7 linked regions of the Homo sapiens genome follow. The protein of the gene in region 7 interacts with the protein of the main gene of each other region in a pairwise test. Each region holds a gene or a part of one and is shown on either strand. Other genes may lie near its edges.

Region 1 (4,074 bases), on a different chromosome or scaffold from region 7:
GAAGCAATTTATTTTCCCAAAAGAGAAGTGCCAAGGGAGCCTGAAGTGCCATGGTGGAGAAGAAGGAACCCTATAGTCGAGCCTCTGGACACCCTGGTCTAGGTGGCCACTCAGGATCAGTGCAGGGGGCCTGCACACCACTAGGGGCAACAGTACCTTGGACAGGCTGTTCGTCTCACCTGGGGTTCTAGTTTGTTAACAAGCAAAAGGGGCTCACTGCCCAATGTGCTAGAAGCCAACACTGACACCAAATTTTTGAAAAAAAGAAAAGCTTTATATTAAAAGTCACCTCTGAAGGAGACAGGAGTCAAGCTCAAATTTGTCTCTTTCTGCTGGCATTAAGGCAGTACTTTTATTAGAAAAGGTTCAGGGGGTGGATTCTGAGATTAGTAGGTGATTTGTGCAAGGAAAAGGGAGGTCTGGAAAGTCCTTGGGCATGCATAGTTATTTCTTCATGTTAACTCCTGAGTTGCATGGCAAATTCAGGGAGAGTTAGTATGAAACGTGGTGGAAATTCAGGCTATGACATCAGCAAGCTTATTCTGTGCAAGCTCCAGTTAGCCATCTTGGTTCCAACCAGTTTCAGCCAGGTTTTTCTTGATCTCACAAGTGGAGGGAGTTTCAGCGGCTTAAGTTTCTTTTCTTATCTGCTATCTTGAAACTCAAAAATTAAGTAACTGGTTTCTTACTCTTTGGGACTTTCCAGACCTCCCATTTCCATCCACCAATCACCTACTAATCTCAGAATCCACCCCCTGAATCTTTTCTAATAAAAATACTACCTTAATGTCAGCACAGAGAGACAGATTTGAGCTTGACTCTTGTCTCCTTGGGAGTTGACTTTCAATATACAAGTTTTTCTTTTTTAAAGAACTTAGTGTTTTAGTATTGGCTTCTATTGCATTGGGTAGTGAGCCGCTTCAGCTCTGTAACACTAACTCTGGTAGATAGCATCAGGATGAAATTGAATTGTAGGGCACACAGTTGGTGTCAGAGAATTAAGGAATTGAGTAGTGTCAGAAAACACCTCAGACTACACTTTCTCCCTTGGTATGGGAAGAGTTCAGTTTGTGTTTCTTTCTTCTTGAGTGACCCAACTCCAAGAAGATGCCACTTCTGGAGAGAGAATAGGGATCTCAACTTAGCCTGGCAGTGAGAATACGAATGGCAGCTGGAATGACCCAACAGGGGGCTAATGTTTGGGCTATTGTGTGTGTCACACTGACCCTGACCAGCCAAGTAGTCACAGCACCCACAAGCTCTTCCTGCCTGTCAGATGCCTCATTCCCACCTGTGATGCTCAGAGAGAAACCATGAGCCCTGAAAAACACCATATTGTTTTGTGATGTCACCTCTGGAATGTTCTGAGTGTTTTGGTGACCAACTTCTGCATAGGACCTATACCTGGCAACTCACATTGGTATGGCTTTTTACTTGAGATAGAAATAATCATCTTAGACAGGGAAGCAGGTACAGCTATCTCCACTTCAAAAACTTTCAAAAGCCTTTTACATCAACTATAATATCTAGCTTAATATCTGTTCAGAGATTGATAAACCATCATGCCAGATATCATCTACACGTTCTTTCAGACTCAGACTTTCATAATTGTACATAATTGACAAGAGAGAAATAAATGAGTAGAAAGTTCTGTGTTTTTTAGGCGAGCAATTGAGGCCCAGAGGATGAGCTGGGAAGCAGTAATCTTCTTCTTTTCTCGTTTCCACAGCACTCAAGGCCAAATTATACAAGAAAAAGAGATACCAGATCTGAAAGCCTAGAAATTCCAATCAGTGTGGTTCTACCTCAGGTAGGGATAATCACAGAAGGATGTAACCTATCAGTGTTAGCCAGAATAACCCCCCATCTCCTCCTTCAAAACTCTAGCAAGATGTTGTAGAATAAGCAGAGATAGTCAGGGCTTCAGATTATAGTTTGGGTTGGGTGCCAGCAGGCGGTGTGCTGGGGAAGGCCACATAGCCCCTCTGGGCCTTGGGTTCTTTTTCCCATGAATGAGGTGGCTGGGTCAGATGATCTGGTAAGAACTTCCAGTCCTAACATTCCAAGTTTCTATGATACACTGAAGTAACCCAGCCTTCTCAAAACGAGATCTTTTGGTGCTTAGTGTTGTGCAATCACTCTGGATTTCTGGGGGAGAATTAGAACTGGGACTTGAAATCAAATGCATAAGAATGAATCCATGAGAAGAAAACCTCATCCGTGGACAAAGGGGTACAGAGTTATTTGGAGCTGTCAAGAGAATTAAGCCCTGCTATGCATCAAAGACAGATGTAGGGGCCATGGGCATAGATGCTTTTTCAGTCAATGAATTGGTGAAGTCCTCACAGGCTATAGAGTCTCAGGTCTCCTCCTGCCTGCAATCAGCTGTTTCCTTAGTGGAGTCCTCTTGATTGAATTGTTTCTACTGCTGCTATGTCACAAAGGGGTGGCTTTGCTTTCTCCAGAGTCACCTAAGTCCTCATTGGAAGACCAGGGCCATGCAACCAGAGGGGTTGAAATGTAGGATGGAGGAATCCAATGCAGAGGTAACTATCTGAGAGCTCTGTCCAGGGATGTGTAGGAGGAGGATTGACCACTGGTGGGCATTCCATATATATAATTGTAACAATCTAGGCAAGTATGTTCAGCGGGAGGCAAAAATATGGAAGAAGAAAACATCCTGGATGTTTATTTTCACATTATCTTTATAACTTTGTAATGAACAGTCACTTTTCTGTTACTTTTAGCCCATGAATCTTAGCCAGAATATAAGATAACTTCCCCCTGATCATTCAACAAGATAACAAGCTGTAGGAATCTTTTTGGGCCTGATTCTTTCCACCTGAAATACGCAGGGAGTTGTGTTAGCCACTACTCCCCCAAGAGTGGGTGTTACTGCTGTGATTCCTCATAGCCCATATAAACCAATCTTTTCTTCCAGAATCCTGGGGCCCCTCAACTTTACATGCTTTGAAAGTACCTCAGATGGCTGAATGTTCTCTGATAGTAACCCTCGGTAATGTTAGCAAAGTTGGTGTTTAAGAAACTTGGTCAGGCAGAGGATGCCAACCTAGGGGTGGGTGTGAAGGAGGGGGTAGGATTTGAAAGAGTAGTGGTCATGTGATAGAGAAATTGGAATGATGTTTCCATCAACACCCACCGCAACTTTCCCTCCCCAGCTCCCAGAAACAGCCCAACGATCAAGGAGAAGAGAAGGTGGTTTAAGACAGCTCAAGCTTGTCTTGGGGCTGCCTGCTTCCTGTGCTGGAGGACCTGGTGCTGCTGCTGGGGTCTTGTGGGGCAGAGTGGGTGAAGAATGAGAGGATATCTCCTGTCTGGGCACGTGTACCTCACAAGGGCAGATGCAGCTTCGTGCGTACACCTGCCAAGAGGGCACAAGCCATGCACCAGGTTTTGGACACCTGTCAGGATGCTCAAGACTGGCACTCTGGGGGATGGGTGTGGGTGTCTACAACTAGATGATCCGAACCAAAATACCACCAGGCCTGCGAGAGGGACCAGTGTGCTCACTCTACCTCCCTAAATGAGATGGCACATGGCTTAGGGGACAGGGTTGATCTGGGAAGCAAGGAGAGGAAGAAATATTGACTGAATGTTGGTGCGATCATGTGTCGGGCATGGGGCCAAGCAAGTGTGAGGTAGAGATTTTACAGGTACAGGAACCGGCAACCCCAGGAACCCCACTAGTAATGGCAGAGCTCGAGGAAGGGGCTTGAACTCAAATCAGTGCCCATGTTCTCCGCTATACTAGGGCACATGCCAGTAAGCTGGGCCATGCTGCATCTTAGCTCCATGGTTCTTCTCTTGCTTTTTGGAGATGGAGTCTTCTCCCTGCATCTTAACCACTCATCTCTGGGCTTCTTATTTTGTATTTGCCAAAAGCTGCTCTATTCTGGGATGGAGTCCACTTTCCATTTGTTTCAGAAAGGACTTGTGGCAGCAGCTCTGTCTCCAGAGACTGCCTCTGGCTCCCAGCTGCCAGTCCTGCTGTGCGTTTGGGCTTCTCAATTACATTGGAAATGCCTGTGATCACTACATGTTATCACCCTAAGG
Region 2 (3,500 bases), on a different chromosome or scaffold from region 7:
AGCAGACAAGGGAGAAGGGGAGGGCAAGAGAGAAGAGGAGGCGGAGAAATAAGCAGGTGGAGAAGAAAGCGGAAAGGGGACAGGAAGGTAGAGGAGGAGGAGATGAAGGTGGAGGAGGGCAAGAGGATAGCAGAGGGGAAAGGAAAGGAGAAAGAGAAAGGGAGAAAAGGAGGAGATAAGTGAAAAGGAAAAAAAAAACACTTTTGCTAAACCCAACAGGAAGCCAGAGGGCAAAAGAATCCACTGAAACATTTCATGGAGGTCAGCCTACTGGAGAAGAGGGGAGAGTAGAGGAGGGGGGACTGGAGGAACAGATGATACCTGGCACACTCATCTATCCATTTGTGCCTAAGGTTATCCTGAAATTTTTTAAATTCTAAAATAAACTACTTGAAACACAGTGAGATAAGACTTATGTAATATGGAATTTGATGAATGCTTGATTTGTTGAAATCTTCATGATCAAACACTGCAGTCATATCCTCTTCCAGGCTTCATATTTCTCAGCTGAGTCTTACCATCTTTATTCTACCTTAATATGAGACTATCTTCTTGGTAATTTTAATTAAAAGTATTAGAGGAAAACAACACTTTGACAATTTTTCATCTTGTCTATGATTATAAAATGGTTTTATATGACTAAAATTGTTCTACAGGAGCTGAAAGTTTACCAAGCTTAGATTCATATGGAGTCATATAAGGATTATAAGAGCACTCAAGGCTTGTTATAACATTTAAACATCTTACATGTGTATCAAAAACTTAAGCACTCAAGCTTAAACATAATCCACTATCAACTGAGAAGCCTCTGTAACCATGATAAAAATGAAAACATATAAACTATGATTTAAAAGGCATATTTAGTTATTTGAACCACTGAATACAATTAGCATTTCAGTAATTAATCTATAGCAAACTAATACAAACCTACGATCAAGTTAAAAACATCTGGATTAACATCATTATGAATTTTATATAGTTAGATCTAGTCTAAAACCTCACATGGGCTGGGCATGGTGGCTCAGGCCTTTAATCACAGTACTATGGGAGGTGGAGGCGGGTGGATCATTTCAGATCAGGAGTTCAAGACCAGCCTGACCAACACGGTGAAACTTTGTCTCCATTAAAAATACAAAAAATTAGCTGGGTGTGGTGGCTCACACTTGTAATCCCAGCTCCTCAGGAGGCTACGGCAGGAGAATCACTTGAATCCAGGCAGCGGAGATTGCAGTGGGCCGAGATTGCCACTGTATTCCAGCCTGGGTGACAGAGTGAGACTCTGTCTCAAAAAAAAAAAAAAAAAAAAAAAAAAAAGACACTATTCACACTATTAATGAGTCGATTTACCATTTGGGGTTTTAAAAATATATATACCTAATTATCATAAACCTAGCGATAAAACCTGAAACTAAAAACTTCTAGAAGAAAACACAGAACAAAATCTTTATGACTTCAGGTAAAGAGTTCTTAGATATGCCATCAAAGCACGATTCATTTAAAAAAATTTTGAAAAATAACACTTAATAAAAATGAAGAATTTCTGCTATTTGAAATACAACATCAAAAAAATAAATGAACAGGCTGGACCCAGTGGCTCACGCCTGTAATCCCAGCACTTTGGGAGGCTGAGGCGGGCGGATCACCTGAGGTCAGGAGTTCAAGACCAACCTGGCCAACGTGGTGAAACCCCGTCTCTACTAAAAATACAAAAATTAGCTGGGCATGGTGGTGGGTGCCTGTAATCCCAGCTATTTGGGAGGCTGGGCAGGAGAATCGCTTGAACCCGCGAGGCGGAGATTGCAGTGAGCTGAGATCCTGCCATTGCACTCCAGCCTGGACACCAAGAGTGAAACTCTGTCCGCCCGCCCCTCCTCCCCCCGCCAAAAAAATAGAAAATAAGCAAACGAATCACAAAATGGAAGAAAATATTTGTAACTCATAATCTATAAAGGACATATATTTAGAATATAAAAGAACTCAATGATAAGGAAAAAAACCCTATTAAAAAGGTGAGAAGGAACAAAACATTTGAACAGATACTTCACCAAAGAGGATATACACATGGCAAATAAGCACATGAAAAAAATGTTCAATATCATTAGTCATTAAGAAAATGCAAATCCAAACCACACATGTAATGAGAAACCATTACACATGTATTGGAATGGCTAAAGCTAAAAAAGGCAACACCAAGGGCTGACAAGGATGCAACTGGAAACTCACACATTGCTGCTGGGAGTGTAAAATTATACAGCCATTTTGGAAAACAACTTGGCAGTTTCTTATGACGTTAAAAATTTACTTACAATATAACCCAGCAATTCTATTCCCTAGGTATTTACCTGATATAAAAACCCATGTGCACAAAAAAAACCCTGTATGTACATGTTTATAGCAACTTTATTCATAAGCACTCAAAACTAGAAAAATCTAAATGTCCTCTGAGAAAGGGATAAACAAATTGTGGTACATCCCCATACAATACAACACTACTAAGCAATAAAATGTAATGAAATACTTAAACATGCAACAACATGGGTAATTCTCAAATGCATCTGGCCAAAAAAAACAGATCAAAAAAGCTACATACTATATGCTTTCATTTATGTTATACTTAAAAAGGCACAACTTTAGAGAAAAAAAACACATCAAGGGCTTACCAGGAGCTGGGAGTGGAAGGGAAGGACTGACTATAAAGGGGGCATGGAGGAAATTTTTGCGATGATAGGACTGTTCTGTAACTTGATTGTGGTGGCAATTACATGTCAGTACACCTTTGCCAAAACTCACAAACATATATGGTATAAAGGGTGAATTTTACTGTACATAAGTTATACCTTGGTAAAAAGAAAAACAATTGCTTGGTAACTCAGGTACTGTATAAAACAGACTATCCTGATATAAATTATTAATAAGACATTTACCTTGCTTTTTGTTTTAAAAACCACAGTTAATTATCCCCTCACATAACAAATGTTTATTTAGTGAACACTGAGCCAGGCACCTGTTATTCAATTAATATTTAATTACTAAAACATAGACTCTCAGTTGGGGGTGATTTGTCCTTTCTGATGCATTCTTTATCAAAGCAGGAGCATAACGAGATTCCTATATTTAACTAGTTAGTTTGGCCTAACAGTTGTATCTGGATCAAAAAACACCCCATGTTTACATTTATCTACTGCAGAAAGCTTTTCTTTAAAAGTCATATAGAAGGAATCCCACAAGACATCACCCAAAATCCATTTTGGCTAAAAGTGTCTTTTAAAACATGTAAAGATCTTATATATGTTTAACATGTATAACAGCAAAGCTGAATATAAATGCCATGAAGTTCTTCACTGGCAAGTGGAACACTACGGTGATTGATATGCTTTGAATCTGTGTCCCTGCCCAAATCTCATGTTGAATTGTAATCCCCAATGTTGGAGGTGGGGCCTAGGGGGAGGTGACTGGATCACAAGGGCGGTTTCTCATGGTTTAACACCATCCCCCTTGGA
Region 3 (2,991 bases), on a different chromosome or scaffold from region 7:
TTCCTCTCACCCTCCTTTATCACCTTCTTTTCTATTAAATAGGTATTTTCTAGTACACCATTTTAATTAATGTATTTTTTTTTACTATAGTTTCTTGAGTTTCGTAGTGATGACTCTAGAGATTACTATTGCGTCTTAGTTTATCACAATTTCTCTCAGCTTAATACTAACTTGATTCTAAAAAATATAGAAATTGCTCCAATAGAGCTTTATTCCTTTCCTCCACCTTTATGCTATTATTGTCATATATGTTTATATATTTAAACCCAGTAATATAGTGTTGTAATTATTACTTTAAATAATTTTCTTTTTATAAAGTTAAGAGGAGAAAGGAAAATATATTAGGGTCTTTTACATTCACATATTTAATATTCCTGGTATTCTTCATTTCTTCACATAACTGTCTGGTGTCATTGTTTACTCCAATATAGCTTCATTCCTTCCCCCATCCTTTGTGTTAATAACATCATATAAGTTACTTCTTAACGTGCTATAAGGCTGGTCAGTTGATTTTTGACAAAGGTACAAAGGCAATTCAATGGAGAAAGTCTTTTCAAGGATACTTGAAATGAAGATAGTAGTACACCTTTATGTTTACACATAAGATTATTATATGAATCAATTAAATGGCATATATGAAAAGACTTCATAAACTGTCAAGTGGTCATATTATGTAGTATATATACAACTTTGCTACCTTGCAAATTGGGATATAATATTTATAGATACCCCTGCCTCCATGATTATTGCTAAAACTGAATACTAACCCAAACATACTAAGGTACACTGTGCCATTAGTGGAAATACAGAAAATGTTTCTTTTCTGAAACAGTCTGAATCCCAGAAATTGACTTAGTCCTTAAAAAATTATTTCCACCTATGCTGAACTGCATTACAACTAGCTAGATTCTTATTCACAAGAATGATTTACTTTAGAGAAAGATATTCTGATAAAGCAACGATAGATATTAATCAGAAACTTCATTACTCAGCACTGATGGGAAGTCACACTGTGATAAAAGGCAGCATATCACAATTGCTTCTTCAATGCAAATCTTTTAATGTAGCTAAGTATTTTCCTTCTTCAAAAGTGGCACGCCAATATCTAAATTAATAATAATAGAAAAAGATACATTTTTATAGGCTGTCCATCTTGAATTAATTTTTTTCTACAAAGATGGCAAAGAAGAAACAGACAATGGATCAACTAAAATTTTAACTTATCTACATCTTTTGTTGTCAGCATGTATCATGATTACTTCACAGTATGCAATATACATAAAACCCAATATATAATGCACATAAAGCCACTTCAATGCCACAAGATAAATTTCTCTAAACATCCCTAACTGGTAGACTGTGATGAGAATGGGACACAGACAAGAAGGAAGCCTGTTAACACAACTTTAACACATTTTCCATTTCTGAAGATATAATGTTATTTAAATCAGAAGGTGTGTTTGTATGTGTGTGTTGGGGGGTGGTGTTCACTAAGGAAAACTATATGGGAATTGTAGCCCATATAGTGAAATTTAGAATAGAAATTTCCATCTTATTCACTACTCTTTTTCCATTCTCAATTTATATCTGTTTCCAGAGTTCTTTGATTTAAGCAGCAAAACATTTTCATACTTACCCCAAATACCCATGCAGGAAACCCTAACATTTGAAAACTAACTCAGAGTTGTAAAAGGGGTTTTGTTTTCAGAGTTGAGAGAAATCACTGTCAAAAATGAAATGGAAGTTCCCATTTCTGAGGCCTTGTTTATGGTATTTGGTTGGAGGGGGCGGTGATTGTGAATTACCAGTGAATCTTCTCACTAGTAACAGAATAAAATAGTTTATCTGCCTCTGTTACTCAAGGTACATTCCAGAAGTCTTACAGTTTCTTGTTCAGGATCTCTTCTAGTCGATTTTTCAAGTATGTTTAAAGCAAAGCCATCATCTTTTCCTCAACAAACAAGAACAAGACCTTTCTTGTTTGTTTCCATTATAGGATACTGCATAAAATCTTAAAAATGTTTATTTTGCCTTTTAGTCAACAGATTATATTTTCCCAATCTATTAATAATAGCAGTAACAAAAGATTCTTAAGTTCTTAAAAAACCACATATGATTGTAAAGATCCCAAGAACATTTAAGTATCACCAGAATACTATAATCTCACTTAATTTCTAACAAGCTTATGGTTTGAAATCTCACTTTAGAAATGACAGAATGTTTCCTTATATGTATAAATTTTAATAGCTCAGTTCTTTGGAAAAATATTGTGAAGATACTGGAAATATTGTATGTTTCATCACACAAATCTACAACAATAAACGATAAAATTCTTTATAGTTCATATTGGATAGAAATCAACCTATGAAAAATATAACCTATGTATTAATACTAACAGTTTCAAGTTTTAAACTCAGTTATATCTAAAGGGAAAAATCCCACCTAAAGAAAAATATGTATCAATAATAATAGCTATTTAATAACAGCAACAAAATTTGATGCTCACAACAGGTTTTTATTTCTCATAACTGTTCATAGAGGAGCTCTGTGTACTGAAAAAAAGTGATTCCAGAGCTTCATATAGCTAACTTGAAAACAAGCCTGAAGCAAATACACAGTTAACACTATTTGGCTAATACCTTTAGTCCAAGCTATTTAAATGCTTTCCATAAATCTTAGCATTGATTTTTCTGTAATGATTCTGAAACAGATACTAAGTAATCTCTGGAGATTTACACAGAGGACAAGAAGTTGAAGACCGCATTACTTTTAACTTCAAATGCTATTGAAATAGAATGTATCATGGGTTAAAAGTAGTATTAATTTCAACCCATAGAAAGTATCTCCTATCCTCTTCAATGTGGCCAAATAATATATGCTATAGCCTTATTAGTAAAAGGGAATAATTCCTTGATTTGCCTCATTATGATATAATGGAATGACATGCCATAATGCAACTCTGAAACATAATGCAAAATTAAGTTGGTGTCA
Region 4 (3,500 bases), on a different chromosome or scaffold from region 7:
CTGCCTCGTCCTCCCAAAGTGCTGGGATTGCAGCTGTGAGCCACTGCGCCCGGCTGGATTGTCATCTCAGTAGTGGCCCAAATGACATTTGGGTCAGCAGTGCCTTCTGTTTCTCCTTACAGAGGGCCAAGATGGGTCGCCGAGCTCAACAGGAGTCAGCGCAGGCCGAGAATCACCTCAATGGCAAGAATTCCTCTTTGACTCTGACTGGAGAGGTGGGTGCTAAAAAAAAAGAAAATCTGAAGAAATACTGTTTAAGAGTTAGTGATTCCTTAATGACCAAGGATTTGGTATTCCATATTTCTTCTCTTGAATGCCAACCCTTTCTCCTGTCTTGATTTGGGAATTCCCTTCCTTGGCATTTGTCCTTGTAGCAGGAAATGGAAGAACTTTTTTTCCTTGATGCCAGACTAGTTTCTGTGCATTTCCTTATATTCTTAATGTAGAACTTTTTATGTTAGCTGAAGCAAGGGACTGGGAAGTTTCAAAATCCAGTAGGATTCCAGGTTTTTATTTCCGCTGAATAAATGCCAGTGAGGCAGACTGGTGACGTAAGGTTGGATTACACAATTGGACATTGCTCTCGGTGGTGACCTGCGCTTTCTACAGTCTTCCGGCAGGAAGCAGATCATTTACTGGCCTTACTTTCCTGGAAACTTTTCCGAGTAGCCTGGAATTATGGGAAATGATCCAGCTTCTTTGTGGAGGGTGGGTAATTCTGATGAGCAATACTTTTTACTGCCAGGGCACTACTTTTGGCAGCTTACTCAGAGCCCCTTTTTACCTTCCTCTGTCCATTTGAAAAAACTTTGCAAAAGTCAGCCTCAGGGTCATCCTCTGCCAGAAGTTAGCTCTTCTCTAACCTCTCCAGGCTGACTTAGCAGTCCTTCCTTTCACTTCCCATAGTACCTATTGTGAACATATGCCATTATATGTGAATTGTCTTTTTACATGTCTGTCTCCCCCACCGGACAGTGAGTTCCCAGACAGCAGGAAACCTGGCTTCTAGCTTGCTGGCCCATAGTAGGTTTGCAACAGATGAAGAGACCCATGCTGAGAAGCCTAATGGGTCAGGCAGGTGCATGAGCAAATGAACCGGGTACCTGACATGGACACACTTCACTTACATATCACATAGGTAGGAATATTCTTCATTTTCGTAGGAAATGCATTCTCCACCACTTTCTTAAGCTCTCCACATGGCCTTGTCCATTTATCTTTCATTTTCTCCTTTTAGAAGTGTGGGTATGGAGAATCATTACTTTAAGATAACATCTGTGCTGGCCTAGAAAAACTAGCAGCTGACCCCTTGGCATCACTGCCTGGAAGAAACTAGGGGAGTGAGTTAGGGCAGGGGGACTGGGAACTGGAGGCCACATGCCCCCTCTAAAGGGACAACCACTACTTAGCCAAAGCTGGTTGGTGCTGTCGAGAATACAGGCCCAGTATTGCCAGATATGATTCTTCAAGAGATGCTGGCAGTCTAAAATTTTATGTGAAAGCAACACATTTTTAGAGGTTAGCACCTGATTAAGAAAACCTAATCACCATATGGACTGGATATTAAATCATCATATGGGCTGGATTTGGTCCAAGGATTGTCAGTTTGTAACTGCGGCCATGGCACCTCCATTGTGATACTTATTACATTGTATTCTAATTGTTTACATATCTGGTTCTCTCATAAGATATGAGCATCTGGAAGGCAGAGGTTGTGTCTTATCATCGTACCCTATTATCTGTCACAGTGCCTGGCAGAATAGGCCTGCAATTGTTATTGCGCAGGATGAGGTGGGGTCAAGTACATAGTGTGTGATGTACTTACACATTAGAAGCTATGTAGAAGTGTTATGGGGCCTGGGGCAGGGAGGTTGGGAGGCGAGGATAGTGGAGCATTGGAGGCACAGTTAGGAGAGGTGATATAAAGTAGGAATTTGGTGAAAGAAGATATACCAGACCCAACCCTGGATCTCAGGGAGCTTGAACTGCAGTGGTGTATGTATTTAAAGAGAAAACGCGGAAGCAAATGACTGAGCTGATGGAAGCCAATTCTTGGCCTCTGGCACTTTACACTGTTCCACATGGGTCCAGGAGGATTAATTCCAACACCAGATCATTCATTCATTTACTCAACAACTATTTATTGAAGCACACAGTAAGTGCCAGGCACCATTTTGCAGGGTTGGCATATTTCAGTGAACAAAAGAGACAAGATCTCTTGCCATAATGGAAGTTACATTCTCGTGATCACTGGCACCCAGGAAGAATAATTAAAAGTCTACTTAAGGCTAGGCACAGTGGCTGATGCTTGTAACCCCTGTAACCCCAGCACTTTGGGAAGCCAAGGCAGGAGGATTGTTTGAACGTAGGAGTTCACGACCAGCCTGGGCAACCTTGTCTTTGCAAAATATTTAAAAATTAGCTGGGTTTGGGTGGCATGTGCCTATAGTCCCAGCTACTTGGGAGGCTGAGGCAGGAAAATTGCTTGAACCCGGGAGGCGGAGGTTGCAGTGAGCTGAGATCTTGCCATTGCACTCCAGCCTGGGCAACAAGAGTGATATATACATAAATATATAATTAACAATAAGAGTATATATTATATATATATATATAAATATTAACAAGAGTGTGTGTGTGTGTGTGTGTGTGTGTGTGTGTGTGTGTATGTATGTATATATATTTTAAAGTCTACTTAATTGTGAAGGAGGTTATAGCCACCTATGGTAGTTAGGTGAATGAGCCTGTGATGACCTCATTAGGCCTTGAAGCCTTATATGACCCCCATACCAAATCAGCTCCTAGGCTGGGGTCAGTGGGCCCTGCTTGCCTACCATCCACTTCCCTTGGCTCCCATGTGAGAATCATTGCTGTGAGAATATAACTCCATAGTCACAGAGTGTGATGAATCCTTTCAGGGTTTCAGCCATTCAGTAATACCTACTTATTTCGAGGTTTACCTTTTTTTAACTCTGTGCATTACCATTTTTGTGGGAGAACATGATGAAAAGTCATTCTGCTCTTCACCCAACTGTTGCCTCTGAAAGCAAGATGCCAGTTAGGATTCCAGGATCCCTTTCTCCCTGGGCTAATTGAGGTTTAAACAGTGTGGGCAGCCTCCCACGGGGCCAGATGCTCACTGTGCTGTGTGGGACTTTTTGGCTGTTTCTTTCTAAAATTAGATCCCAAGACTTGTGTGTGTGCCCATTTACATTCCGATTCTATTACTTGATATATTTATTTTTGTCCTCTTGCTGACTGTATTCTAGGATGAAGATATCCATGCAAACGTAAATATGGTACCTGGGAGCTGTCAGACATGCTGGAGTTACTTTAGACTTAAGTGGAAATTAGTTCAAACACATGGTTATTTTAAAGCGAGGTAGTGGAGTTGGGAGCTCTGGTGAAGGAAGCAGAAAGAACACAGGGCTTCGCACCAGAGGACTGGGTGCTAATTGCCTGGATTGTGATTAAGTCCACCAATCTCTCTAATTCTCCATTTC
Region 5 (2,363 bases), on a different chromosome or scaffold from region 7:
GATCATGCCGGTGGCCGTTGATCTGATCAGAAGTTCTCAACCTGGAGGACCTAGCTGCATGTGTGCCAATCAGATATGAGCTGTGTCATGATCATTGTTGATTACTGATAATTGTTAAATACTGAAGTATGGGTTACAGCCTTTATTTTGTAAGTCAGAGTGGAAGGCAGGGTATCCCTATAATAACATCATTATGATTTCTGAATGATCCCAATATGATTTCTGAAAGAGAGAAACAGAGGTGGGGTTACCGCTGGCATGGATTGCTTATGAGGGACCCACATTGTGTCAGGCCCTGGGCACATGATATGAAATAGGTAAAGTCTCTGCTCTCTTGGCACTTATTTTAGTGAGAAGCTAGTGAGACAACCCAGCCCAACTTGCCCATGGAGACTCAGTGAGCAAGAGACAGAGTTAGCTGCTGAGGCACTACAAATGAATGCCGTGGTCTATTTCCATTGCTTCTTCCCTCCTCTGCTCCCGCTTTTTGTTTCATCAATTCATAGAAGGGTACCATGAATGTGAATCTCTTCTATAATATGCATCTGCCCAGCTGAAAAGTGATTGAGAATCCCAGGATTAGATTAAATCTAGCCATTTGCTCTATTGTAATTTGTATTGAGTTCTGTTCCCATTCATTCAAAGTATCTGAGCAGATGGGTGAAGAAATTACAGTAGGATTCCAGCAGTGTGAGTAAATGATTCCATCTGGAGAGGTCAGGGAAGTCTTCACAGAGGAGATGGCTTTTGAACTCTATTTTGAAGTATGGATAGGAGTGTGCCAGGGAGAAAAGGAGAGGCGTGTGCATTTCTGCTCTTAGACGGTGAGGCTCACGTCTTAACCCTTCCTTCCCTGAGGGTCTAGCAAAGCCCTAGGCACTCAGTGATGTCTCAATGCTTATTTCTGAGTCAGGGATGGAGTGAAGGGCCTGATTTAGCTTAGTGCTGGAAGGGGAGGAGGGACTCTGGGATTGTCCAGCCCCAAAGACCTTATGCTGGACTTGCCTCTAAGTTCTCTGATGTTGTAGATTTTCCTGAGGGACATGTCTGGTCCTCTAAGGCAGGTAGAGTGGTCACAGGAATACAGGTAAGATGCTTAGGTCCAGAGAGGGTCCCTGTTCTATGGGTCTTGGGCAGGGAGAGAGTGTAGGCTCCATTGAAACAATCTTTACAGGCTCCCAGGGACTTCCTGATCCAAGTAAGCATAAGGAGAAGCGCTTGATTGTCCTCTAATTGTATTATTTTAATATTTTACTTTCCCAGGGCCAAAGCCTTTCTTATGCCAAAGCCTTTACCCTCCAAGCCTGTCATGGTCTTCACTGTTTCTGACAACCATAAAATTAATATATATATTTTTCTAATTCTCTCCGATAACATTAGGAATCTCATCATGGCATCCACCCTCCCTCTCTTCCAGGTTCGGCTCGACATCCGGAGGGCCCTTGATGCACAGCCCCTATTTTTCTTCCAGTGGGAATGGCATAAACTTTTAGATCTCCTCTTCTCCCTTCTCCTCCCTTAGCCCTTGGATCAGGACTAGGGGCTCTGATTTTTGGATTCTGCAAAAGCTTGGTATGAAGTTTGGAAAAGCAAGGTTCTGACCAGGTCACAGACAAAACAGCAAGACCAGATTCATCTATTGGCCAACACTGACACAAAAATAGCCCTCCTCACACATGGCACAAGCTACACACACACACACACACATGACCCTCATATTCATACTTGCTTGCTCAACCACTTATGCATCTATATTTAGCTAACATGAGTGATTTTTGTTTTTGTTTTTGTTGGTAAAATAGAAGTAAGACACTTAATTTTAGAAAGTTTGTATTTTATGATAAAAGTATGAGCTACTTGAAATGGAGTGTGCCTGTTTATTTTTGTGGTGTTCTGTGTAATCTTTACCTCTCATTTTCCCCACGAGACTCAGCGTTTACTCAGGGCATGAAAGGAGACCACAGGCTGGAGTCCTCAGAGTGCTGCTATCTAAATATTGGACCTCAGGGATCATAAGTGAGAGGGCTTATCTCTTTTCCCCTGTGATCCACTCACCTCTCAACATCCCAGTGTATGCATCTCAGGAAGGGACATCATAAACGGAATGCACTCTGTCCTATCCCGAGTGGAAGTTTTCCATAAAAAGTCTCTTTTGGACAAACGATTGGGAAATGTAGCCTGGAAAACAATTTCAAAATTGATGCTAAATGTGGCAGACTATATCCAATGATTGTACATCAGTACCAAGATAGAGGTCAATGTCAAAACTGCACCTAATGGTGGCATCCTTAGACCTGTCTTGTTCAACTCTTACCAATGACTCGAATAAGGACATTGAGAGCAACTTGATCACATTGATGGAG
Region 6 (3,500 bases), on a different chromosome or scaffold from region 7:
AAAAATACAAAAAAATTAGCTGGGCGTGGTGGCACGCACCTGTAGTAGCAGCTACTCAGGAGGCTGAGGCAGGAGAATCGCTTGAACCTGGGAGGCAGAGGTTGCAGTGAGCCGAGAACGCACCACTGCACTCCAGCCTGGGCAACGGAGCGAGACTCTGTCTCAAAAAAAAAAAGAAAAGAAAAGAGGAGAAAAGACGGAAGAGCACCATAAAAACTAATGTAATACTGAAAGGATCCAAGCTACAGAGGTTTTGACAAAAGTTTATGCATATGAAATGTGCTCGTGATGAAGTCATCCACTCCCATGACACAAGACCAGTGAAATATCCCAAGATTTTAAAACACTGACCACTTTGCATTCTGTTTCCTGAGTCAAAGCCAAACTACAGAGTTGAAAGTGCTTTAGCTCAACCTCAAACCCTTTTTGTTTAGATCAGAAGTCACCAACCCCCAGGCCATGGACCAGCACTGGTCCGTGCCCTGTTAGGAACCAGGCCACACAGCAGGAGGTGAGCAGCAGGTGAGCAAGCATTACCACCTGAGCTCCACCTCTCCTGTCAGATCAGCAGCAGCAACAGATTCTCATAGGAGCGCAAACCCTATTGTGAACTGTGTATTTGAGGGATCTAGGTTGCGCACTCCTTATCAGAATCTAATGCCTGATGACCTGAGGTGAAACGAAACCGGTCCCTGGTGCCAAAAAGGCTGGAGACCATTGATTTAGGTAATGGTTCTCACTTAGCAAGCAAGTGAACAAATCTGTATATGCCCATTTGGTTAAGCCTGGTATCTCCCAGACATATGACCATAGCAGAATGAACAATAATTATGTTTAATGATTTTGTTACTACCTTTTTTGCTGAGGGACTTTTTCCAGGATGTTATTTCTGGAGAAAAGAAAGGGATCTCTAGGAAATACTTGCTCCTGTCTGGTACAGAAATTTCACCCAATTTACACAGGCCAGGCCCTCTTCTCTGAATAACTTAACAGGTGAGGTCAACATGCATTTATTCAGTGCCTGCTGTGTGCTTTTATAAAATAAAAGCTGTATCATGTTATAGTGTGGCAGAGAATAGTGGGAACAGACATCAACAAGGAATGTATATAAAAGAACTTTAAAGCCGGGAGTCCCAGCTGTGACAGACCAATCTCCAATTCATTAAGACCCTAACCCTCAGGCTCCTTTCAAGCTGAACTCATGCTTAATTTAAAGGAAAATATTCGTGCCAAAGTTTCCAGGAAATGGAAACTGGAGACTTTTTCAGGTCCTCTAAATTCTCAATCATTCCCCACATGAATTGTCACAGAAACAAAGGGCAAGAGACCACTTTACCTCTTGTGGATTTACTGCAGTTAAGACAGAAACTTCATATGATTGCCTCCCTGACTGCATGGTCACCAGGTGATGTGTCACATCAGGCACTGAAGACAGGGAACGTGGGGATCCTTCAGCAAGCACCTCTGTGAAGCAACAGAAAAATGTTTCAATGAAAAGTGAATCCAGAGATACACCTATCTGGATCATTAAGCCTCTCATTAACAACTCTAAAACTCTATTCCTCTATTTCCCACATTCCTCTATTTCTTCCAAGTTAATCCTGTCTGATAAGCATTATCAGTGAATTTGGAAAGTAATATAAAAAGAGAATAGAAAGGCAAGAAATCTTAATACAGGATTTAGAATAATATGGTGTTAGCACTTTTAACTGAATTAAAACTATGTATGAAACAGGCAAAAGTCTTAGGCAAGCAGGTAAGGGAACCAAAGCCACCCTTAAAAGCAGTCGCCAATGATACTAATAGCACTTACTAACTGAATATGATATGAGTAACAAAAACATAGGGTCTCACAGTTACTAAATGTTCATCAGTGGGATCACCATGAAAATCTTCTGGAAATAGTTTATGGATATACCACTTAGCCCTCAAAAAACTAGAAGTTTCTTCTAGGGGTTTTCTAGATTATACAACTATTTTATGCTGTACCATATAATTTAATGTTGGCTTATATACTATCTTTTATGTACTCAATGTTCTTTCCCATATATATGTAAGCTTTCACTTCTCAACTGGATTTTAAGGTCCCTATCTTCTACTTTTGTCTTTCCCATGGTGCCAGGCACACAGTAGGCACTGAATAAATGCATGCTGACCTCACCTGTTAAGTTTTTCAGAGAAGAGGGCCTGGCCTGTGTAACTTGGGTGAAATTTCTATACCAGAGAGGAGCAAGTGTTTCCTAGAGAGCCCTTTCTTTTCTCCAGAAGATATGGCTTTTGAAGGTATGGAGAAATTGCTTTATATCTCCTCTGTAAAACCTGGTTATGTTCTGTTTAAATGTTCTAAAAGTTAAGTTCTTCCATAACTGCAATAGGAAAGATAGAAATAGTTGGGCTAGGATGCTAGGATTAGGAATAATTTTTTCTTAAGAATTTTTTCTTTTTATTCTTTTATTATATTATCTTCAATGAAAAAAAATTTTTTTTTAAACAGATTGACTAATCCACCCCAGAGAATAAGAACACAAATGCTACTCATACCACAGCTACTCATAAGAAATGAGATTTAAACATACATTGTGGAGACACCCCATTCCTTAGCCCCTAGTTGCAGCCCATTTTTCCCAAATAAAGGAGAGTTGGAAGTCTTACCATCATCAACTCCCAGGATAGAATTGGTATTTGGTAGGTTCAAGGACTCTCCACCAAGGCTGGGCTGGGAATTCATAGACACCAGGTTTTTACTGGGTACTGAAGCCTCTTCAAGCAAACTACTGCCCATTAGTGGCTCAGCTGCACAGAGAATAGGTTGTGAGAGACATACAGCAATCAAGGCTGTGCCTGGTCCTCATTTTCTTTCAACAGAAGCTGGCCTTCTCTTTCATTACTAGAAGTTAACCTATAGATGGGATGCCACCCCCTATTTCACCTACTTTCGAGAAACAAGAATAAACCTAGAAGGGAAAGAGTAAGCCTTAGAAGATAATGATCCTTGCTTGTGTTCAGCGTCTGAAGAATTAGCATATGAAACAGGATAGGTGGATCTTTAGAAAGGAATATTTGGAATAATTAAGGAAAGATATGGCGAAGGAATAAGAATTAAAAAGAGTTATCAAATTTCAGGCAGGGCAAAAAGGTAGTCATGACTGGTAAATAAAATATGCTTCCAGCCTGGCCAACATGGTGAAACCCCGTCTCTACAAAAATATAAAAATCAGCCAGGTGTGGTGGCACCTGCCTATAATCCCAGCTACTCAAGAGGCTGAGGCAGGAAAACTGCTTGAACCCAGGAGGCAGAGGTTGCAGTGAGTCGAGATGGCGCCACTGCACTCCAGCCTGGGTGACAAAGCAAGACTCCATCTAAAAAAATTAAAAAGCTTAAACTCTTCCCATGTGGAAATCTTTTATCACTGTGTTACTCAAATGCTTGTTCATGGATCAGCACTAGTTACCATCAAACTCACTAGGGAAACTTTTAAAACTACAGATTCTAGGATCTT
Region 7 (3,500 bases):
AATTGCTTTGGGAGGCCCAGGAAGGGAAGTTCCAGCCACAATGGCAATGAGGTTTATTGTGCCCAATGGGGAGGAAGTGAGAGGAGAGAGTTATAACTTTGGTGGCCTGTGTGGTGGCCACCCTTTTCAGGTATGTGACAAATGCTGATTGAGGGATCCCCCAAGGGAAGCTGTTTGTGCTCCAGCAAGGGGGTCCCTTGGTAGATGATGTGGGTAACTGGTGGGCAGCCTCCAGGATGCAGTGGTTGGCTGGGCTGTGGTCATCACCTGCAATGTGGCCATTGTCTCCCTGGGCTGGTACACCTTTTTTTTTTTTGAGCCAGAGTTTCGCTCTTGTCACCTAGGCTGGAGTGCAATGGCACAATCTTGGCTCATTGCAGCCTCTGCCTCCCAGGTTCAAGCAATTCTCCTGCCTCAGCCTCCCAAGTAGCTGGGATTGCAGGTGCCCACCACCAAGCTTGGCTAATTTTTTTGTATTTTTAGTAGAGACGGGGTTTCACCATGTTGGCCAGGCTCGTCTCAAACTCCTGACTTCAGGTGATCCACCTGCCTTGGCCTCCCAAAGTGCTGGGATTACAGGCATGAGCCACCATGCCCGGCCACAACTCTTAAGTCAGATTTGGGTCATGGAGATATAGGCTGACATCTGGAAGGGTGTCACAAAGATGCACAAAGCAGAAGGGGTGCTTGAGGGCACATTTAGAAGGGGTGCTGGAGGACACCACATGCGCTGGGCTGACAATTGGGCATCATTTCTATGATAAAAGTAGTTTGTAGGGGAGGTGGGACTAAACATACAGGACCACATTCCTTTTTGTTTGTCCTGATGGCTTCTCAGGATGATGTGATATTCCTGGCCCATGGTGTTGTAGAAGAATTGTACATTCCAAACAGATAGGGATGACACTGTGGGTGCAGTATTGCCGAGGTGTCCCAGCGCTGAGTAGGGAAACTGTGTCCCAGGCCACCAGCTATATCAGGCATAGCCAGCTATAAAAAACCTAAAGGTTTCACAATAACATTTTCAGTTTTTAGACTCTGTAATAGCATTTAGGGCTGGCCTTTTATAATGACAGGGGCATCTGTATCCCACAGCTGTGAGTGGCTGTCTGTGCTTTGGCATCCGTGGTGGGGAATAGACAGCCTCAGGCATTGTTATTTCAGAACACGAATGTTGGGGGGCTCCTTTGTCTTGCTCCAAGATCCACATGGTGGTAGGTGTCAGTCCAGGGGCCAATATTCTATCCCCTGTGGAACAAGCTTAACATTAGCCAGCCTTTAAATCCATCACAACTGGTAGATGTGTTAGGGGATGGGAGAGCCTCATTTCCAGGCTGGTAGAAACATGTTGTCAGGGACTTCGCTCTTCCATCCATAGCCAGCAGGTCCCACTTATTATTTGCCATTGGTCTGACACCGATGCCTTGTGAATTGTGGATAGATTGAAAAAAGATATAGGAATGAAGGATCAGAGGAGCAATCCCACATGGGAATCCATGACTTGGAACCTGGGACTCTTGTCAGAACTAGTAAGTGTAAAATGAGGGCATTTTATTATGGATGAGGGGCCCATAGGGGCAAGTATCAAGGGAGATAAGAGCAGTAAGGAAAACTGATTTGGAAACCACAAGCCATTTTGTAGCTTTAAGAGAATATACATCATTGTGGAGTTTGCGGTAGCCTGGTGGGAGAAGTGAGCCAGTGACAGACAGGAATACATGTCCACCATGGTTAGGGCATATTGTGGGGTTGGGGAACCTGAGGGAAGGACTCATTACCGTCAATTTTCCATCATGAGTGTGGTCAGTTTCCTCAGTGATTCTGCTAGGAGTGACATATTGCACCCACCCATACTTCTCCACAGATATTCAATATGTTTGGGATAGCAGTTGATTATGGGTGGGAAACGTAAATGCAGCATCTTATTGTGGAAGGCCTTAGCTGCAAGTCTCCAGGAATGTGGATTTTTTTTTTTTTTTTTTTTTTGAGACAGGGTCTTGCTCTGTTGCTCAGGCTGGAGTGCAGTGGTGATACTGTGGTTCACTGCAGCCTTGACCTTCTGAGTTCAGGTGATCCTCCCACCTCAACCTCCCAAGCAGCTGTGTGTGCCACCACGCTTGGCTAATTTTTGTTTTGTTCTTTTGTTTTGTTTTTTGTTTGTTTGTTTGTTTGCTTTTTGTAGAGATGGGGTTTTGCCATGTTGCTCAGGCTGATCTCAAACTCCTGGGCTCAAGCCATCTGCCCGCCTTGGCCTCCCAAAGTGATGGGATTACAGGTGTGAGCCACTGCACCTAGCCAAGAATGTGGATTTAATGAGCCACTAGTCCATGGAAGACTCTTGAACAGGGGAAGGATGTGAGTGGAGTTGCATTTGGGTTGGGTTGGGGTGGGGAGAGGCTGGAGGTGAGGCTGCTGTGCTAGGAGCTTAACCACCAGTGAAGGGTTGAAGAAAGGAGGTGGGGGCAGGGGGAATGACTGAGTGGGCAATGACAGAGGCACTCACGTGACTGGCCAAGACTTGTCTGCAGGAGACCAGGGAGCTATAGCCAGGCAGCTGCAGGGCCATTGATAGAAGCTGCCATGGCTTGAGCACTTGCTCTATGCATACTCACGCAAGCGCATTCGTATATGATCTCGCTCATCCCTCACACTGAGGTCATTTGTGGGATGCAAATGGCCAGCCTTATGCTTCTGCCCCATCCACACAGGTCAGGGGCCATACTCTGTGCCACTGCCAGGGGGATCCTTTCATAACCTGCATCAGATCATTTCGCTCCTCTGCTTGAAGCTCTCCCAAGGTTTCCTTCTTGCCCAGAGTAAAAAGCCAAAGTCCTATAAGGCCCTGCATATCTGGCTCTAGCCATCTCTGTGTCCCCTTCTCTTACACTCCCTTCCTCCTTCCCTCCCTCTGCTTCATCCACACAGGACCCCTTGTCATTCTTCAAACTCTTGCTTTAGGGCCTTTGCTCTTCTCCTTCTTCCGGGAACATTCTTCCCCAGATGTGAGTTCTTCTTATTAGAAAGGTCTTCCTTCATCACCTGAGTAAGACACTAATAACCCGGGCCAGCGCATTCCATTTTCCCTCACTCTGTGTTATTTTTCTCCCTAGCACATATTGCCATCTGGCATACTATATGTGTACTTGCTTATTTGATTGGTGTCTGTCTCCCCCTCTCAAGTTTGTAAGCCCCTTTCAGGCAAGAGCAATGTTTGTTTTGTTGACGTCTACGTATCCGCAGTGCCTAGAACAGTTCCTGCTGTGTATGAGGCGCCCAGTAAACACTTGCTGAGTGGATGAATGAAGTGTGTATTATCATCCTGATTCAATGAAAGGGAAAACTGAGGCTCAGGAAGGGTACGCAACTTCTCCAGGCAGGACAGCTAGTAGTCGCCAAAGCCAGGGTTCAAGTCTGACTACAAAGCCTGTCCTATTTCCGTTAGGGTAGAATACCCTCGAGGAGTCTTGGATCTTTGTAACTGAGAAAATGGATCTTTAATA

The links.
Region 1: the proteins of LMO2 (region 7) and CBY2 interact in binary tests that used the Homo sapiens proteins (3 or more experiments, as listed by UniProt).
Region 2: the proteins of LMO2 (region 7) and ABI2 interact in binary tests that used the Homo sapiens proteins (3 or more experiments, as listed by UniProt).
Region 3: the proteins of LMO2 (region 7) and TSEN15 interact in binary tests that used the Homo sapiens proteins (3 or more experiments, as listed by UniProt).
Region 4: the proteins of LMO2 (region 7) and IFT43 interact in binary tests that used the Homo sapiens proteins (3 or more experiments, as listed by UniProt).
Region 5: the proteins of LMO2 (region 7) and C1orf94 interact in binary tests that used the Homo sapiens proteins (3 or more experiments, as listed by UniProt).
Region 6: the proteins of LMO2 (region 7) and ZNF410 interact in binary tests that used the Homo sapiens proteins (3 or more experiments, as listed by UniProt).

The regions. Positions count from the first base shown.
Region 1 is NC_000013.11:45,701,046-45,705,119, forward strand, and holds the start of CBY2 (protein chibby homolog 2), read left to right. Parts: upstream 1-1,274; 5' UTR 1,275-1,345; coding exon 1,346-1,420; exon of another isoform or gene 1,421-1,470; intron 1,471-1,729; coding exon 1,730-1,810; intron 1,811-2,465; coding exon of another isoform or gene 2,466-2,546; intron 2,547-4,074.
Region 2 is NC_000002.12:203,397,894-203,401,393, reverse strand, and holds part of ABI2 (abl interactor 2), read right to left. Parts: intron 1-3,500. UniProt on the Homo sapiens protein: Regulator of actin cytoskeleton dynamics underlying cell motility and adhesion. Functions as a component of the WAVE complex, which activates actin nucleating machinery Arp2/3 to drive lamellipodia formation.
Region 3 is NC_000001.11:184,068,730-184,071,720, reverse strand, and holds part of TSEN15 (tRNA-splicing endonuclease subunit Sen15), read right to left. Parts: intron 1,106-2,991; exon of another isoform or gene 989-1,105; intron 1-988. UniProt on the Homo sapiens protein: Non-catalytic subunit of the tRNA-splicing endonuclease complex, a complex responsible for identification and cleavage of the splice sites in pre-tRNA. It cleaves pre-tRNA at the 5' and 3' splice sites to release the intron.
Region 4 is NC_000014.9:75,988,763-75,992,262, forward strand, and holds part of IFT43 (intraflagellar transport protein 43 homolog), read left to right. Parts: intron 1-122; coding exon 123-215; intron 216-3,500. UniProt on the Homo sapiens protein: As a component of IFT complex A (IFT-A), a complex required for retrograde ciliary transport and entry into cilia of G protein-coupled receptors (GPCRs), it is involved in ciliogenesis.
Region 5 is NC_000001.11:34,217,269-34,219,631, forward strand, and holds the end of C1orf94 (uncharacterized protein C1orf94), read left to right. Parts: intron 1-1,417; coding exon 1,418-1,493; 3' UTR 1,494-1,863; downstream 1,864-2,363.
Region 6 is NC_000014.9:73,921,359-73,924,858, reverse strand, and holds part of ZNF410 (zinc finger protein 410), read right to left. Parts: intron 2,794-3,500; coding exon 2,653-2,793; intron 2,161-2,652; exon of another isoform or gene 2,123-2,160; intron 1,465-2,122; coding exon 1,337-1,464; intron 158-1,336; coding exon of another isoform or gene 56-157; exon of another isoform or gene 40-55; intron 1-39. UniProt on the Homo sapiens protein: Transcription factor that binds to the sequence motif 5'-CATCCCATAATA-3', and is specifically required to silence expression of fetal hemoglobin in adult erythroid cells.
Region 7 is NC_000011.10:33,885,577-33,889,076, forward strand, and holds part of LMO2 (rhombotin-2), read right to left. Parts: intron 1-3,500. UniProt on the Homo sapiens protein: Acts with TAL1/SCL to regulate red blood cell development. Also acts with LDB1 to maintain erythroid precursors in an immature state.